Linked DNA regions of Homo sapiens: region 2 is linked to region 1. The links come from fine-mapping of genetic effects on gene expression. A gene starts in region 1. The other region holds a variant in brackets. All regions are shown on one strand. Distances are between the middles of the regions.

The links.
Region 2: its variant is fine-mapped to the expression of RLIM in whole blood (TOPMed, PIP above 0.99).

What each region holds. Positions count from the first base shown.
Region 1 is chrX:74,611,061-74,620,117 of GRCh38, reverse strand. It overlaps RLIM (ring finger protein, LIM domain interacting), which reads left to right and starts at 5,494. Exons shown (of 4, transcript NM_016120.4): 1 at 5,494-5,696. RefSeq lists an enhancer at 5,570-5,889.
Region 2 is chrX:74,437,652-74,446,708 of GRCh38, reverse strand. All of the region lies in intron 1 of SLC16A2 (solute carrier family 16 member 2), which reads right to left. Among named protein-coding and RNA genes, the nearest start is that of SLC16A2, 21 kb to the right of the region's middle. The variant A/G (reference allele first, on the strand shown) is at 5,235.

The sequences.
Region 1 (9,057 bases):
TAATCCCAGCTACTCAGGAGGCTGAGGCAGGAGAATCGCTTGAACCTGGGAAGCACAGTTGCAGTTAGCTCAGATTGCACCATTGCACCTCAGCCTGGGCGACAGAGCGAGACTCCGTCTCAAAACAAACAAACAAACCAACCAAACAACATGGGAGGGAAATGCAATTAGGCTAAATAGAAACCAAACAAGTGTTTAGTAGTTGCTTTGGTAGGTTCTAGAGTGGCACTGAATGCTACCATGAGATAAATTGTTTTGAGAAGTACTTTCCTTGATATTGTAAGTAAAGTAGCTCCATGCTTATAAAAGAACACGAATGAATATGTGGAAAAGGAAAAGAAAGAAAGTATATTTGAAGCATGGAAAGAATAAGTGGTAAGGGAGATATGTAGTCTTCAAATTCAGGCAGATTTTTCTTTCAAAATAAAAAAGGTTCTACCCCTTTCCAATACCAAGTAATAATGCACATTGTAAAATGTTGAAGACAATACTGAAAGGGGTAAAGAACATAAAAATGGTCCCTGAGCGGTGGCTTATGCCTGTAATCCCAGCACTTTGGGAGGCCGAAGCAGGTGGATCACCTGAGGTCAGGAGTTCAAGACCAGCCTGGCCAACATGGTGAAACCCCCATCTCTACTAAAAATACAAAAATTAGTCGGGCATGGTGGCGGGCGCCTGTAATCCCAGCTACTCAGGAGGCTGAGGCATGAGAATCGCTTGAACCCGGGAGGCAGAGGTTGCAGTGAGTCGAGATCATGCCACTGCCCTCCAGCCTGGGTGACAGAGTGAGACTCCATCTCAAAAAAAAAAAAAAAAAGAACATAAAAGTGACTAAAAATGTATGCTCATCTAGGCTTTTTTCTAGGCATATTTATACATATCTTTTAAATAAAAATGGAGTCACACAAGCTGTATTGTAAATCGCTTTTTTCATTAAAAACGTAACCTGAGGCCGGACACGGTGGCTCATGCCTGGAATCCCAGCACTTTGGGAGGCAGAGGTGGGTGGATCACTCGAGGTCAAAAGCTGGAGACCAGCCAGGCCAACATGGTGAAACCTCGTCTCTACTCAAAATACAAAAATTAGCTGGGCGTGGTGGCACGAGCCTGTAGTCCCAGCTACTCAGGAGGCTGAGGCAGGAGAATCGCTTGAAACCAGGAGGTGGAGGTTGCAGTTAGCCGAGATTGTGCCACTGCACTCCAGCCTGGGTGACAGAGTGAGACTCCGTCTCAAAAAAAAAAAAAAAAAAAGTAACCTGAACGTATTTCCAGCTCTAGGTACTTATTTTTAATGCTACATGGTAGTCTATTATGTGGTTATACTATAACTAATTGTTGTTGGATGGTTATTTTTTCTGATTTGTCAATATTTCGATGTTATAAACCACACTGTAATTAGCATCTTTGCACATTCATTACATACATATTTGCAAATTTGTCCACTTCTTTCCTTAAAATAAATTTCTGTACCTGGACATGTTTGTCAAATACTATGAATATGAGTCTTTTGAAACACATTACCAAATTGCCTTAAGAAAACTGGGAGTGGTGGCTCATGCCTGTAATCCCAGCACTTTGGGAGGCTGAGGTGGGCGGATCACAAGGTCAAGAGATCGAGACCATCCTATCCAACATGGCGAAAATCCGTCTCTAATAAAACTACAAAAATTAGCTGGGTGTGGTGGCGCACGCCTGTAATCCCAGCTACTCGGGGGGCTGAGGCAGGAGAATTGCTTGCACCCAGGAGGTGGAGGTTGCGGTGAGCCGACATTGCGCCACTGCACTCCAGCCTGGTGACAGAGTGAGACTCTGTCTCAAAAAAAAAAAAAAAAAGAAAACTGATATCAATTTGTCCCACTGGCAATACAAATGTGCCCATTTCATAGGATCTTCATCAACAATTAATATTATCGATTTTTTATCCTTGACATTCTAACAGGCAAAAAAAGGAACTTTTTAAAAAATTTTTTAGTTCATAAAATTTTTCTGTTTTGTTTTTTTGAGACAGAGTTTCACTCTTGTTGCCCAGGCTGGAGTGCAATGTCGCAATCTCGGCTCACTGCAACCTCTGCCTCCCGGTTCAAGCGATTCTCCTGCCTCAGCCTCCCGAGTAGCTGGGATTATAGGTGCCCACCACCACGCCCAACTAATTTTTTTTCTGAAGTTTTAGTAGATACGGGGTTTCACCATGTTGGCCAGGCTGGTCTCAAACTCCTGACCTCAGGCAATCCACCCGCCTCAGCCTCCCAAAGTGCTGGGATTACAGGCGTGAGCCACCGAACCCAGCTATTGTTTTTTAATTATTATGGATACATAATAGTTGTACCTCATTGTTTTTATTTTTGATTAATTACTAGTGAGGCTGAATATATTTTCAAGTACAAGGTTATTTACTAACAAGAAAAAAAGAATATATTGTCATATGCTTATCAGCCACGTGTTTTATCCTTTTATGAATTATCCATTCATGTTCCTTGCACATTTTGAAATGGAGGTATTTATCTCTTTTTTTTTTTTTTTTTTTTTTGAGATGCAGTCTTGCTGTTACCCAGGCTGGAGTGCAGTGGCATGATCTCGGCTCACTCCAACCTCTGCCTCCCGGGTTCAATCAATTCCTTTTCCTCAGCCTCCCAAGTAGCTGGGACTACAGGAGTGAGTACGCCACCACGCCCAGCTAATTTTTGTATTTTTTTTAGTAGAGACGGGGTTTCACCATATTGGCCAGGCTGGTCTTGATCTCCTGACCTTGTGATCCGCCTGCCTTGGCCTCCCAAAGTGCTGGGATTACAGGTGTGAGCCCCTGCGCCCGGCCGGTATTTATCTTTTTAAAAATCAATGTTTAACAACTCTTTATAGGCTGATATTAGCCATATGTGTTTATCACATATGTAACATTTTTGCTAGTGTTTCGTCTTTTTATTAAGTAAAGATATTACCCCTTGGCTCTAATATGTCATTATGAAATGATTTTTTTCAATTTATCATTTGTCTTTTAACTTTACCAACCTTGTATTTTGACATTTAGAAGGTTTACTTTTATTTATGAAGTTGTACTTATTAGTCTTTCCCATTATGGATTTTGTGTTGTATTTCAAAAGTGCTTCTGCATCCCCAAGGCTATAGAAATATTAACCTAGGCCTGGACAGTGGCTCACGCCTGTAATCCCAACACTTTGGGAGGCCCAGGCAGGCGGATCATGAAGTCAGGAGTTGGAGACCAGGCTGCCCAACATGGTGAAACCTCATCTCTACTAAAAATACAAAAATTAGCCAGGCGTGGTGGTGCATGCCTGCAATCCCAGCTACTGGGGAGGCTGAGGTAGGAGAATCGCTTGAACCCAGGAGACGGAGGTTGCAGTGAGCTGAGATCATGCCACTGGACTCCAGCCTGGGCAACAAAGCAAGACTCCATCAAAAAAAAAAAAGAAAGAAAGAAGGAAGGAAGGAAGGAAGGAAGGAAGGAAGGAAGGAAGGAAGGAAGGAAGAAAGGACAGAAATAGTAACCTGTATTTTCTTCCACTTCTTTTATGATTTTATATTTTAGATTAAGCCACATAAGCCTCAAGAATACGTTAAGGAGTGGCTAATGTTATTGCCATAATCAGAATATCAGGCTTAATGGCAATTGCAGGCTACTGAAGAATTCCTTTTACACGTTCTAGGTAATCGTTCTAGTACATGATTATGTAAAATAAGACAAAAACCTGAGTAGAGACACAGCGCCTAAATCATGTATCCCTCTGCCAAAAATGACAATATCAATGAGTCTTCTAGGGAGTTGGGCAGGTAAGTATGAGGGATATTGTTTTAACTGCTTGGAGTGAAATACTTATATTCCAGGCTGATATAACATCCATCATGGTGAGGGGGTAATTCTCCCAAAGTATTTTGAGGGCTTACTATGTGGTCGCTGGGGACACAACAGTGAACAAAACAGAGAGGTTTACTGCTCAGAAAGGGTGAAGTAAACAAACAAATAAATAACTTACTTTCAGATTAAGTGTTTTACAAGAAAAGTAAGCAGGTAAGGAGATGGGAGAAGTCGTTATTACTTTTTTCTTTTTTTTTTTTTCCTCAGACCTTTTTCCGCCTTCAGGAAGAAGTTATTTTAGGTAGGGTGGTCAGGGAAGGCTTCTCTAGGAAGTTAATAATTGCGAGGCTTGGATGATGAAAGCAAAGATATGAAAGTAAAATATTCCAGCAAAGGTAAAGTAGTTGAAGTAGGAAGAAGTTAGCTTTGTTGGAAAAACCGTAACAAAGCCAGCATAGCTGGCATGCTATTGGAAAACAGAAAAATTGGGAAAAGGAAAAGAATCTAAAAACTTGGGTAAGGTTTTCCTTTAACTGTGACAATGGGAGTGGCATGCTGTGTGGCGAGTTCCCTCAATTCTTTCAGGCATTACTACCTAAGAAAGGCCTTCTTTAACTGCCCTTTTACAAATCCCAACGTTATCAGATTTTCCCACCCTTTTACAATCACCGCCCTTTTTCGAATACTTTAGAGTTAATGCCTCAAAGTTATCAGTCTTTTAAACATCACGAATCCGTTTGTCCCTACAAGGAACTCTTCTGTCCCCCTTCCTTGATTTTTCTCCTTGGCATTTATCACTAACATGATATGTATTTATGTTTGATTTTTTCTAAATTATTGTCCCTGGCCCCTATAAAGACTCAAGAGAACTGGGATTTTGATCTGTTTTCTTTTTTTTTTTTTTTTTTTTTTTGAGACACAGCCTTGCTCTGTCACCCAGGCTAGAGTGCAGTGGCGAGATCCCGGCTCACTGCAATCTTCGCCTCCTGGGTTCAGCTATTCTCCTGCCTCAGCCTCCCGATTAGCAGAGATTACAGGCGCCCGCCACCACGCCCGGCTAATTTTCGTATTTTTAGTAGAGACTGGGTTTCACCATGTTGGCCAGGCTGGTCTCGAACTCCTGACCTCAGGTGATCCGCCCGCTTCGGCTTCCCAAAGTGCTGGGATTACAGGCGTGAGCCACCGAACGTGGCCTGTTTTCTTTCTTAATTTTGGTCTATTTTAATTTCCTAAGCAGCTACAATGGTGCTTGACATGCAGTTGGCACTGTGTAAATACATGTTGAATAAAACGCAGGCTACTTTTTGAACTGGTCTGCACGGATTGTGTGAACTGATGTGATGTCAGGGTAGACTAATATCACATTTCTCTCTCTCTGAAAATGTCTTCAAGCAGTCAGACCGTGACGTCCTTCAGTTTTCAAAATGGGAAAGCGAAGGTTCCCACAATTCTCAGAACGCAAATTTCTCGCCACAATTCAAAATGGCGGAGGAGGGTGGGGCCTGTCACATGGTGGGCGTCATAACAGCTTTCCTTTTCCAAACCGCCGCCCGCCTTGCCGCGTCGTCTGCCGTCCCCCTCCTCCTCCCGCGGAGCCTTTTCGAGGAATCGACTGGGATTGGCTAATAGGCTGGGAGTGGGGCTGCGGTGCCGGGACGCGGCATCATCACTTCCTGTTGTGGGCAGTCGTTTCCTGTCGCTGCTTGGTAACAATGGGGAAGATAATGGCTGCCTGAGCAACGTCTCCGAGCAGGCGCTGGGCTAGAGGCGGGTCTCAACCAGCTACTCATTGGAGGCGGGCTTGAGAGCGGCGGCCAGGGAGGTGCGGAGCAGCCTCGGCGGCGGCGGCCGAACCAACCGAGTCGGATCCTGACCCTAAAACCTAGTAAGTGAAGACTTGGGAATCCTGTGAGAAATGATGTAGAGCGAGAGGAAGACAGCGGAGCCGCGGCTGCCGCGTTCTCTCAAAATGGCCCGAGTGACGCGTCGTGGCAGAGGCTCAGCGCCGCCTCCGGACCCCAGGCCCGTTGCTGCGGGGGGCTCCGTGGCGTAGTCGCCGCTGCCATTTTAGTTGAGTGGTATAGTCGACAGGCTCTTTGAAGGGGAAGGAGGTGGGTAGTACTTCCTCTCGGTGGCCGCGCGAGCTGCAGCCCAGGCCCTCCGGAGCCTTAGGAAATCGGGGGAGGCAGTTTTTGAGTTTTGGCCTCAGGCGTCAGAATCTTAGAACGTCTCAGGCTTTTTCTTCTCTGTTCTCTGGAGGCTTCCCTGACCTCCCCGCGTTTTCCATGGCGGGCTTGGGTTTGGGAAAAGGGAAGTAAAAAATCAGGCTGCCCCAAGTGAGATGCTGGCAACTCTTGGGCCTTTAGATTTCCAAAACCTCATTTTGAGCCCTTCTGCAGGGTATTACCAATTAGGCGCCCCCTGGGGCCGCGATGACATCTTCCCTGAGGATCTGAGGCAAATGTGGTTTACTCCCTTGCTCGAATAACCCTGGCATATCCTTTGCCAGGTATCACTGGAAGGATCCCCCCGCAAAAGAGAGGGAAAAGCCGTTAGGTGTTTGTTGTGTTCTCCTGGATAAGGGATGGAATTGGGCCAAATTTTCAAGTTAATTTGTGTTTAATCCACCAACAACTCAATCCCTCCCCCATTAAAAAAAAAAAAAAAAGCCTAGGGGGGTCTCTGCTTCTGCAGACGGTACCTGCCACGCATGCCATAGCTTAGTAACTAGTATTAACCGGTTGGGCTTCTGCTTCCTGAATACTCGGTCCCTTTTTCCCTTATGCTGATTAATTTCAAGATGGAGGAGACAGCCACGTTCCTTCCCTAGACAGTTTCACCATACTTATTCCACAGGTTAGTCTGGGAATCTGAGGCCTAGCAGTCTTGTTATTGAGGTCATTTTTTTTTTCATTTTGGGGCAAGAGGAAGCAGTTGTATCAGATTGTCATCTTCCATTTGCAAGACCCCACAATGATTTTTTGCCAGAAGTAAGGAGCCCGCATTTCCTGAATCAGAATTAACCGCAGTGTTTTGGACTGATTGAAAGGGGGAAGAAATAATAAACCTACTGCTACTAATCATTTCTTTCATTCTTCGTGATTATAGACAGAGTAACTACTTATCACCCCATTAAGTACATTGTATCTTCCCTGGAGGACTGGCACAATTATAACCCCTCCCCCCCCATGACTTTTCTAAACTGTAGAAATATAGCTTAGGTAGCTAGAAAGACCAATCCACTTTTTAAAACTTGATTTTAGGACACACTCCACTTACTGAAAAATGTTACAAAGATTTTTTTAGTCCATGATGTTCTGATGAATTTTAATACTTTAGTTCCTACCTTAGGCTAGTGTAATGTGCCAGATAAGTCCTTGAAAGTGACTATCAGAATCTGAAAATAATTACTGGTCTGATAAGGAAAGGCTTATTTTAAGCAAGCTTATAATAAAACGTAAATTGTCTCTCAGTCTTAGAAGACATCTTTTATCTAACTCCTGGTCCCCTCTGACCTTCTTGCTCTCCCCAAATGCCCTAATACTAATATTGAATTAGGTTGGGTTATGGTGTGTCTGTATTTTTTTTTTTAGGTTGTGTCTAATTCAAAGAAAATGTGTATCTTTTTAAAGAGGAAGAATAATGGATTCTTTTTTTTTCTAGAGCAGAGTGAAGAAAACTAAAATCCAGTTTATTGTATTTCAATACTATGTCATAACAGTCAGGTAATTTATTTTTTGTTGCGTCTCCTGATGATTTATGTGTAGAATGCATGTTTACAAATATTTATTGTTCTATTTTGCAGGCCCTGTAATTGGATGGGCTCATTGATAGATGTTAGATGGTGTTGGGTATTCTTCATGATAAGAATGGGTACTTTTCACTGGGAATTAAAAGGGTAATGTTTCTGGATACCTGGAACTCACCAGTGCTTTATCTGTGAATTTGACTCTTTAAAATAATGTCTGAAGTTTACCAATACCTGTATAGAACAACAACAACAAAAAATTTGTTGTCTTATATCATTGTTGGAATGGCATGAGTATAAGTAAAATAACATTTAAATGTTCATTGGATAACTAAATGAAATATCAGAATAGCTTACGAGAGTATAATTTTACGTTACTTTGTGTGTGGTGGTTGATTTTTTTCCTTTAAGATTCAAAAATTCATAATTGATACATGATACTTTTAATTGATATTGACTCCTTTCATTATTATTATCATCATCATTAGGGTAACCACATAATTTATTGCCTAACCAAGACACTTTTAAGAACAAAAGGAACATTAATAATTCCTGGACAGCAGGTGCAAACCTTGATTGTCCCCGACAAACTGGGATGGATACTTAGCCTAAATTCATAACCAACTTCTGCTGAAGGCCTGTGGTGCTAGGCCATGTGCTTTATATGCATTATTTTATAATTCTCACAACAGAGCCTCATGAGAATGTTAACTTTTATAGAGGAAACCAAAAACCCAAAGAGGTTAAGTATAATTTGTCCTCAGTTAAATAGCTTTAAGTGGTGGAGCCCTCATTTTATCCCAGGCCTGTCTGACGTTATACTTCTGGGTTTGATTGCTGTCTAATTAGATAGGAAATGCAATGAAAATGAAAGGTTGTAGTAAAAAGTCTGTAGGTTATGTTGCATCAGAAACTTTTGTTAATACTTAAAGGTTATCCAGCAATCCCCCCTTTTCGTCTGTTACGTTCCTGTTTCAGCTATTATGCATGTTTACACATATTTATTGTTCTATTTCACAGGCCCTGTAATTGGATGGGCTCATTGATAGATGTTAAATGGATAGCTCCTTGTATATCATTTGATAAACTTAATTTAAAATCAGAAATGATTTTAAGAAATAGCTTAATAATTAAATGATCTGGAAATACTAGGCTGGTTGGATATCTTTGAGGTTAGTGAACATGTAGTGAGCCTTAATATAGTAGTAGGTCAAATGAGGCATCTGCATTTATGGAATTATATTATATGTACATTAATTTTTCCATGGCCATGGTGGATTAGAAATAGAGCAAATCACCAGCCAGCCTCCTGTTCTCTTCATTTACCATAGAGTGGATGACAAATTAGAGAATAAAAAGTCTTCTGTCAAACCCAAACCAATGAGGGCCTAGAATTTTGTGCCACTGCCTAGAACTGGACAGGTTTTTCTTTAACACAAAGATTTCTAAAACCTATGGCCCATTGATTTCAGAAAGTATCTAGTTTACATAATAAATT
Region 2 (9,057 bases), 170 kb after region 1:
TTGCCAGCTTTTCTCATGAAGGGGAATAAAGCAGAGAATTTTGGTTTGTTTGTTTGGTTGTTTTGTTTGTTTGTTTGTTTGTTTGTTTTGAAACAGGGTCTTACTCTGTCACCCAGGCTAGAGTGCAGTGGTATGATCATGGCTCACTGCAGCCTCAATCTCCCAGCTCAAGAGATCTTTCCACCTCAGCCTCCTAAGTAGGTGGAACTACAGGCGTGTGCCACCACACCTGGCTAATTTTTGTATTTTTTTGCAGAGATGGGGTTTCGCCATGTTGCCCAGGCTGGTCTCAAACTACTGGGCTCAACCCTCAGCTTCCCAAAGTCCTAGGATTACACATGTGAGCAACCGCGCCCAGCCTTAAAGCAGAGAATTGACTTAGGTAAGTGGGAGTGGGAAAGCCAGGCTTCCCAGGGAAGGACAGGACCAATGTGTGAGAAATTTATCCTGCCCAGTTGCACCTGGAGCACAGATGAGGCAGACCATGCTTTGGGAATTCTAGACTTGGACAGAGGATCAGTGAGAGTGTGGCTCTACCCTGGAGCTCAGAAATCTGATTGGTCCCAGGGGAAGAGGAGGGGGCAAAAAAATCTTGGCACCCGCAACTAGCATCAGAGTCTGTGGACAGGGCAAGGAAGTGGGAGAGTCATTTGCCAGGTGTCTAGAGGCAAAGTGAAGCTTGGAGGCTTCCTGTGGGATTTCTTAGGCAGAGGGGCATGGTTAGCAGTCAAAGGAAAAGCTAAAAATCTGACCTTGGTTGCTAAGAACAATGATGTCAGAAAACAAACCCAAACACAAAGCACCTTTAAAGCAGCCTTGCAAATAAGGCCTGAGAAGTCAGCAGTGGATCCTGGCTTTGCCCAGCATGCCTGGAGTGAGAGGCATGAACCACTTGGCCCCTCTTGCCCACAATGCCTTCCCCAAAACAAGCTCATGTTCTCCCACTCCTGGCCCTCATTTCATTTCAATACAAAGTTATCAAGCACTGACTATGTATAGTGCATTGTGTTAGGTGCTAGAATCACTATGTCTCTCCTTATGAAGCATTATACTCAATTGTTAGCTCTAACAGTAAGAGCTAACAATTGAGTATAATGCTTCATAAGGAGAGATATAGTGGTTTATAATCAAGGTAGATCTGTCATGGTCTACCTTGATTCAAGTATGGCATGAGTGTATGTATGTCTGCTCATACAGACATAAGACATACAGACATGAGACATCGTTCTCTATCTCCCCTTGACCCTCTCCTATCATAGCATCTAGCAAAATGTGCTATATATAGTGAAATGAAATAAGTCTTCTTGCAGGAACACAAGCCGAATAGAGAAGGAGGCAGAAAGGTAGTGCACAGTCAGTATCTTTTTGATCCATTGCTTAATTTTTATTAGGCTTGCTGCCTGGTTTTATTTGATTCGTGGAGACTGATGGTTATCTTAATAGCGAATCCAGATCCCTTGCCTCTCATATGCTTCCAGAAAAACTTCCTACCCACCTCAATGCATGCACACATGTGCAAGCACACACACACACACGCAACTTAGAACTTGCCACTTATTATTTATGTGCCCTTTACTTCACTTCTCTGCGTCTCAATTTCCTTATCTGCAATAATGGGCTAATAATAATATCCAGAGACAAGCTGCAACTTCCCAAATAGATCTCTCTTATGGTTTGCATTGATTTGAGGTTGTCACCGCTCCTGTGGGTGTGATGACAAGGTCTTTCTGTGCAGAAAAGCCCAGCTACATTTGTCCATGGAAGAGGAAAGAGGACCCTGTGAGAATCCTGTGTGATTCCCTGTCATGGACATAGACATTACAGAAGCAGATGATCACCTCGTCTTTACAGCAAACAGTGGAGGTGGACAGGATATAAGCTAGGCTGGGCAAATTTGCATTATTGTGTATATGGAAGGGCAGTCAGGCAGCAGGGAATATTAACAATAACAACTCCTCCTTTTTGAACAGTACTTTAGGGCTCGCCAAGTATTTCCAGGTCATTCTCTCATTTGATCTTCAAAACAAGCAACAGAAATCTCCTAGATGTTTTTTCCATATATTTTTCCCATTTAACCCTGTGTCAAACTTTAAAAAACAGGCTGGTCTTTACAAATGAGGGAACTGAGGTTCAGGGCAGTAAAGCACCTTTCCCAAAGTCAGGGAGGGAGGGAGATAGTGGTAAAATTTGCAGATAGTGGTAGAACCCAAGCTTTCGGATTCCTTGTGGCATGCTGCTTCCCCTGTAACAAATAACAAGGGTAAATGAGTCAGGGGCAGAATATGGTGCCAGGACAGCCAGGATTGAAGAGGGAGGGAGATATTGGTAAAATTTGCAGATAGTGGTAGAACCCAAGCTTTCGGATTCCTTGTGGCATGCTCCTTCCCCTGTAACAAATAACAAGGGTAGAGGAGTCAGGGGCAGGATATGGTGCCAGGACAGCCAGGATTGAAGAGGGAGGCAGTATGGAGAGGGAATACAGAGAGCATGAGGATAAGAGAAGATGAAGAATGAGTGGTTTTTGTATCTGAACCACAGCCCCTTCCCCATATTAATTTTCTAAGTGCTACTCAGGGGTCTCCCAGGGAAACTCCTTTCCCTCAGATGTTGCCTCCACAAGCAACTTAGCTTATTCCAGACCCTGAGCAGTGCTCTGCTGGAGCCAGCCTAATACCACCACCTCCTCCTGCCCCTGCCCCCAGACACACATGCACACACATACACACCTGGTACCAGACTGTGGATAATATTACTCTGTGAGCCAAACTGCCTTCCTCTTCTGCTCAAGATGCAGAAGGGGATAGAAAATCCATCAGCAGCTTCCAAGAGGAAAAGGTATGATGGGGCGGGCAGGGAAGGAAATATTCATCTCAGCCCACCCAGGAAGGCTGTGGACAATGCAGAATCAAGGTTAGCCTCTGTCTGCAACTCCTCCTAGCTGTATCATGCACTCAGAGAAGGACGCACACAAACACAGGCACAATCACACAAGGAATGGAGTGGCTTCCCTGAGCCCATTTTGCAGGAATTTCTTATTTGCCAATTTAAAGAGATATTTCCTGTTTTTCTCAGGAGGCGGAGAGTTACAGGGCCCAGGCCTAGAACCCAGAGCACCTTCTGGATACTGTTACAGAAAGTACCTCACCTGAGACCTGGAGCCAGGAGTGAGGCAGCTGAGTCAGAGCCCCGGGCCAACTCAGCCCGAGCTGACTGGGGGTCACTCACCCACTCTTTTTCTGCACCACACATGGAGAGAGCCTAGTGGGGAGGAGAGAATGGCAGATTACAGCCAAGGGACCCGAGGCTGCTCGAGTTCATGGGGAAGGATTACCATAGAGTTGCTGACCTCTGGAATGTCAAAGCTGGAAGGGGCCTTAGGAATCATCTAGATATGGAATCAGATATCCACAGAGGAGCAGGGAAGAGATGACCCTCGGCTTGAGAGTCACAGGTCTGTAGTTGAATCCTGGATCTACTGTGAATACTAGCACTTGACCTTGGATGAGTCACTTAACATTTCTGTTCCTCAATACTCTAATGTGTGAAAAAAAAGGGAGGAATATCCCCTCATAAAGCTATTTTGAGGCCTAAGTGAGATAACCCATGGAAACATTTTAGCATAATGTCTAGCATGCAGTAGGTTCTCAATAATTTCTTTTTGTCAAGCAGAGTTAAGACTGAATTCTCACTTCCCCACTCCTAGCTGTTTTACTTTGAGCAAGCCACTTCACCTCTTGGAGTGTCATTTTTTTTGGACGAAGTCTCCCTCTATTGCCCAGGATGGAGTGCAGTGGCACAATCTCGGCTCACTGCAACCTCCGCCTCCTGGGTTCAAGTGATTCTCCTGCCTCAGCCTCCCGAATAGCTGGGACTACATGCGTGTGCCACCAGGCCTGGCTAATTTTTTTGTATTTTTAGTAGAGATGGGCTTTCACCATATTGGCCAGGCTGGTCTTAAATTCCCGACCTCATGATCCACCCGCCTTGGCCTCCCAAAGTGCTGGGATTACAGGCGTGAGCCACTGCGCCTGGACCTCTTGGAGGGTCTTAATGGGACTAATCCTACTTCACAGGGCTATTGTAAGGATTCAATGAAATAATTAATACTTGTAAAAGTCTAACATCATGTTAGGTACATAGTAAATGCTCAATAAATATTGGCTGAACCTGAACTGGTTTATCACTAGGACATGAGACCTGGACTGTTTTCTCAGAGCTATGCTGCAGCATCCCACACTCTTTTGTCTCATCTTTTGTGTGACTGGTCAGACAAATGGGTACAGCCCAAACAGAGGTTCAAGCAAGATGAATTTGTTCAGATGAGAAAAGAACAGTGGTTTTGGATTTTAGCTTCATTAGCAATGGGCTACCCTAACTTGCATGACCAATTCCTCGGCCAACGCTAATGAGACTAATGGCTGACACCCACCCTTCTCCTGGGGGCACAAATTCCCATTTCTTTTTTTTTTTTTTTTTTTTTGAGACGGAGTTTCAGTCTTGTTGCTCAGGCTGGAGTGCAATGGCGTGATCTCGGCTCACGGCAACCTCTGCCTCCTGGGTTCAAGCGATTCTCCTGCCTCAGCCTCCCGAGTAGCTGGGATTACAGGAATGCGCCACCACGTCTGGCTAATTTTGTGTTTCTAGTAGAGACGGGGTTCCTCCATGTTGGTCAGGCTGGTCTTCAACTCCCAACCTCAGGTGATCCACCCGCCTCGGCCTCCCAAAGTGCTGAGATTACAGGCATAAGCCATGGCACCCGGCTGCAAATTCCCATTTCAACAGCCAGTCCTGACACTCCTGGGGCATCTCTAGCCATTTCCCCTGCCCCAGAACCTGAAGTGATAAGGGCAGGTACAGGAAGGTCAGAGACTGGGGGTGAGGGGGAGGCTTTCCTGTCTCTTATTGCCCAGTCTGGGGACACTTTCAGCTTATGTCTGGCCTACATCCTGTGAAGGCCTCTAGTGGATCTCTAATAGAGATCAAGGTTTGTCTCCAAGGCAAACCACATCTCTAGGTGGTGGGGTTGGAGAGGTGGGAAGTTGAACATATTCAAAGCCCTGGAAAGTTTCCACTGTTGGACATGGTCCTTCAGGGAGACAGGTCTGGTGGATCAGCCATTTGTCAAATCTCCTTCTGCTCAAGTCTAGGCCTACAGACACCTCAAGCTTACTCTTAGGCAGCTCCCTCAACCCACCTTGACAAGCACCCATTGTTTGCAGAAACCTTAAATAAAT[A/G]CTGGGCTTTTATTCCAATGCATGGATTAGCAGCTGGTTCCCAATCAGGATTATTGTGACTGCTGCTAGTATACTCTCAATCACTGCCAAGCAAATTGTAAAAGTGTGTAGGTCTCTGCCTGGTGCGGTGGCTCATGCCTGTATTCCCAGCACTTTGGGAGGCCAAGGCAGGTGGATTACCTTGAGGTCAGGAGTTCGAGACCAGCCTGGCCAACATGGTGAAACCCCGTCTCTACTAAAAATACAAAAATTAGCTGGGCATGGTGGTGGACGCCTGTAATCCCAGCTATTCGGGAGGCTGAGGCAGGAGAATGGCGTGAACCGGGGAGGCGGAGCTTGCCGTGAGCCGAGATCGTGTCACTGCACTCTAGCCTGGGCGACAGAGACAGACTCCGTCTAAAAAAAAAAAAATCCAGGAGGCGGAGCTTGCAGTGAGCCGAGATGGCGCCACTGCACTCCAGCCTGGGCGACAGAGACAGACTCCCTCTCACAAAAAACAAAGTGTGTAGGTCTCGTTACACATGCCTTTTTCCTCACGTGTAAAATAAAGTGGTCGTCTATGTGATTGCTCCTTGAAAGTTAAGGAGTTCACAACTCAGTGAACCAGAGGTCAGACCTGACTCTACCCTATCCATGCTCATGCATGCGCGTGCACACACACACACACACACACCCTCATTTATTCTTACCACATCCGTGTTCACGTCCACACACATCCACACCTACATGCATGCCCATAGTTACACACAGTTGGATATACTTAAAATTCCACTCACACACATACATACTTTCCACAGCTTTGACACAAACACATACACACAATACACAAAACCACACACCACAATTGACTCTCTCTCTCTTCTCTTCTGAAGTTGACCAGGAAATAAACACGCTTGGCTAAGAGCTCCATTACATATTTATGTACAGCAGCAAAAAAAAAAAAAAAAAAAAAGGAATTTATATTCAGAGTAAACAATCTCCAGTCCCAAGGCTGAAAAGGCTGAATAATCTCCCTGCCCTACTCTCTACTGCCCAAACCAACACACACACACATACACACACACAAACAAAACAGAACACATACACACCTTTTTTAAAGACATCTTGTGAGGAGCCCTTATAGTTTGCCCTTTCCCGGCAAGCTGGAGCGATTTGTTCTAAACTTACAATGAACACACATCTTGGTTTTCCTGGGACAATTCTAGTTTATGCCTGTGGTTCCAACAAAAATGTTAATAGAGTTCTCTTTCACCCTCAAAAGTGTCCCAATTTGGACAATAAATGATATGATAACCCTACTCCCTCTCTAAAACCCTCCTCACCCTGGTCATGGCTGGGCCACCTAAGATGAGCCCATTACATAAAGCCCAGGCCTCTCTCTTCCTGAGAAACCATCTTGCTCTCCTCTAACCATGCTTAACTCTTCAACTCTATCACTAGGAATTCTTTTTTGTTCCAACCTTGCAAATAAGCAAAACAATTTTCTAGCCTACATTCTAGTGATTGAGGGGAGGCTGAAGGACTCTGCCATTTGATTTGAGAAGTTATCCAGCCACCAAAATTCTAGTTGGCCTCAAAGTGGGCGTAACTTTTCTCCTTTTTGTCTCACCTCATTTAATTCCCCAACTATGTTCCTCTTGCTTATAAACCTCAATACCCTCACTTTTCCCTCTTCTTTCCCTCTTCCTCCTCCCTGTCTCTCCAAAACCTTAGGCTCTAATGACCCCAGGACCTCTTTGAAGCAAATATACTTCATGGTACCACCCCCCACTCCCCCACCACACATACCCTAGGCTTAGAGATCCTTAGAATAAAAAGCAGTGGCAAAGAGAGGGCAGGAAGGGAAAAGAGAGAGAGAGAAAGCGCAAGAGTGAGGCTGGGTGTGGTGGGTGACACCTGTAATCCCAACACTTTGGGAGGTTGAGGCAGGAGGATCACTTGAGCCTAAGAGTTTGAGACCAGTGAGACCTCATCTCTACAAAAAAAAAAAAAAAAAATTAGCCGGGCCTGGTGGTGCATGTCTGTAGTCCCAGCTACACAAGGAGGCTGAGGTGGAAGAATCACCTGAGCCCAGGTGATCAAGGCTGCAGTGAACCATGATCACACCTCTGCACTCCAGCCTGGGCAACAGAGTGAGGCCCTGTCTCAAAAAAAAAAGAAAGAAAGGAAGAAAGGAAGGAAGGAAGGAAGGGAGGGAGGAAGGAAGGGAGAGAGAAAGAGAGAAGAAAGAAAGAAAGAAAGAGAGAGAGAGAGAAAGGAAGGAAGGAAGAAAGAAAGAAAGAAAGAAAAAGAAAGAAAGAAAGAAAGAAAGAAAGAGTTGAGCAAGCCAGAGAGAGAGAGAGAATGAGAGGGAGAGAGAGAGTTTGATTCAACTTCAACTTCATTTAGGCTCTGTGACTAATTTTCATTAGGCACGCTGCCCAATTTCTTTTAGCTTTGGGGCATATGGGCCAGTGACTATTTTTGTGGCTGGATTAACTACGTTTTGAAAAAAGTCTGAAAATGCTGTCAGCTCTTTGCAAACATGGCTATAAATATGCTGTGCAGGCTAGAGTCGTAGTGCTATTCAAAGAGCAACTGGACAAGGATCCATGTTCTCCAGACATGTGTATGTCACATACTGCAGCTTGAATTTTTGCAGCAGCTGTGCTACTCTGCAAACAAGGTGGAGACAGAGAAGAAGCCTCAGCAAGGGCAAAAGGGACATTATCAGTATCAAGTGGAGGAATTTACAAACAGGGCCTTTGTCAGACCCCCGGAAAACTGGATTATCTAGGCAGAAACTGAAGGGTATGGTATGCTCACCTGTACAGCTATGAGGCTATAGATGTACACACATATGCATGCACACACTTACAGAGATACATATACATTTGCTTGTGTGGGTGTACGTGTGTGAGAGAAGGAGAAAGTATATCCATGTGGATAAATGTGTATGTGTATGCACTTTTAATTGTCTGTGTCATGAGTTCAGGCTTAAGATCAGATGTATGTGTAGTTTTGTACATATAAGTGGTTGCTTATACACGTGTGCATCATGGGTGGTATATCAATCTGGCTATACGTGCATAAGCACATGTGCAAGTCTATAGATAAACTTATGTATGTGGTAATCATGATGATAATGCAAAGCTGTTTTCAAAGGGCTTTCACATCCATCTTTTCATTTGAACCTTATCGTAAGACTGTGAGGTAGGGATTATGATGCTCCCACTGCCCCTTTTTTACAGATAGGGAGTGAAGCTCAGACTTGGTCAAGATTGCAGATCAGGTAAATGGCAAATCCAGGACTCTAACACTGGTCTGTCTGTTATAAGATCCTGTGCCTTACCCTATACTACAAAGCATGTGGAAAAGTGAGGCAAAGGAGAGTTGAACTTTGGGGTCTTCTTTGTGACTTCCCACTCCAAGGCTATCTTTTCCTTTAGTGCTAAAAACAGATTCCATTTTTAAAAAGAGAGCCTCAAGGCAAATGTTAGTCTCTGTTGAGCTATGGCCTGGAAAGTAGCCTTTAGGTTGGGTGGTCTTACGTGGAGATAATAAGCAGATCCACTCATGGGACACAGATGAGCCATTGCCTTCTTGAGCAAGTGATATGCTGGAGCCCATAGGTGTGTGATGAGGGTGGGGGTCCTGTGATTAGGAGCTGGAACAATAGGTTTTTTACCTCCCTATTCTCTCTTCTTGCTGCCTGTGGATCTATCTGTCTTCTCTTCCTAAAAGCTGCAGTTTCTCAACATCTGGTCTGACCGGTTTCACCTGAGCTTTCCATGTTTGAGATATTCTGTGAGGAAGGCAGCAAATAAACCTGTCTGGAGTCCTG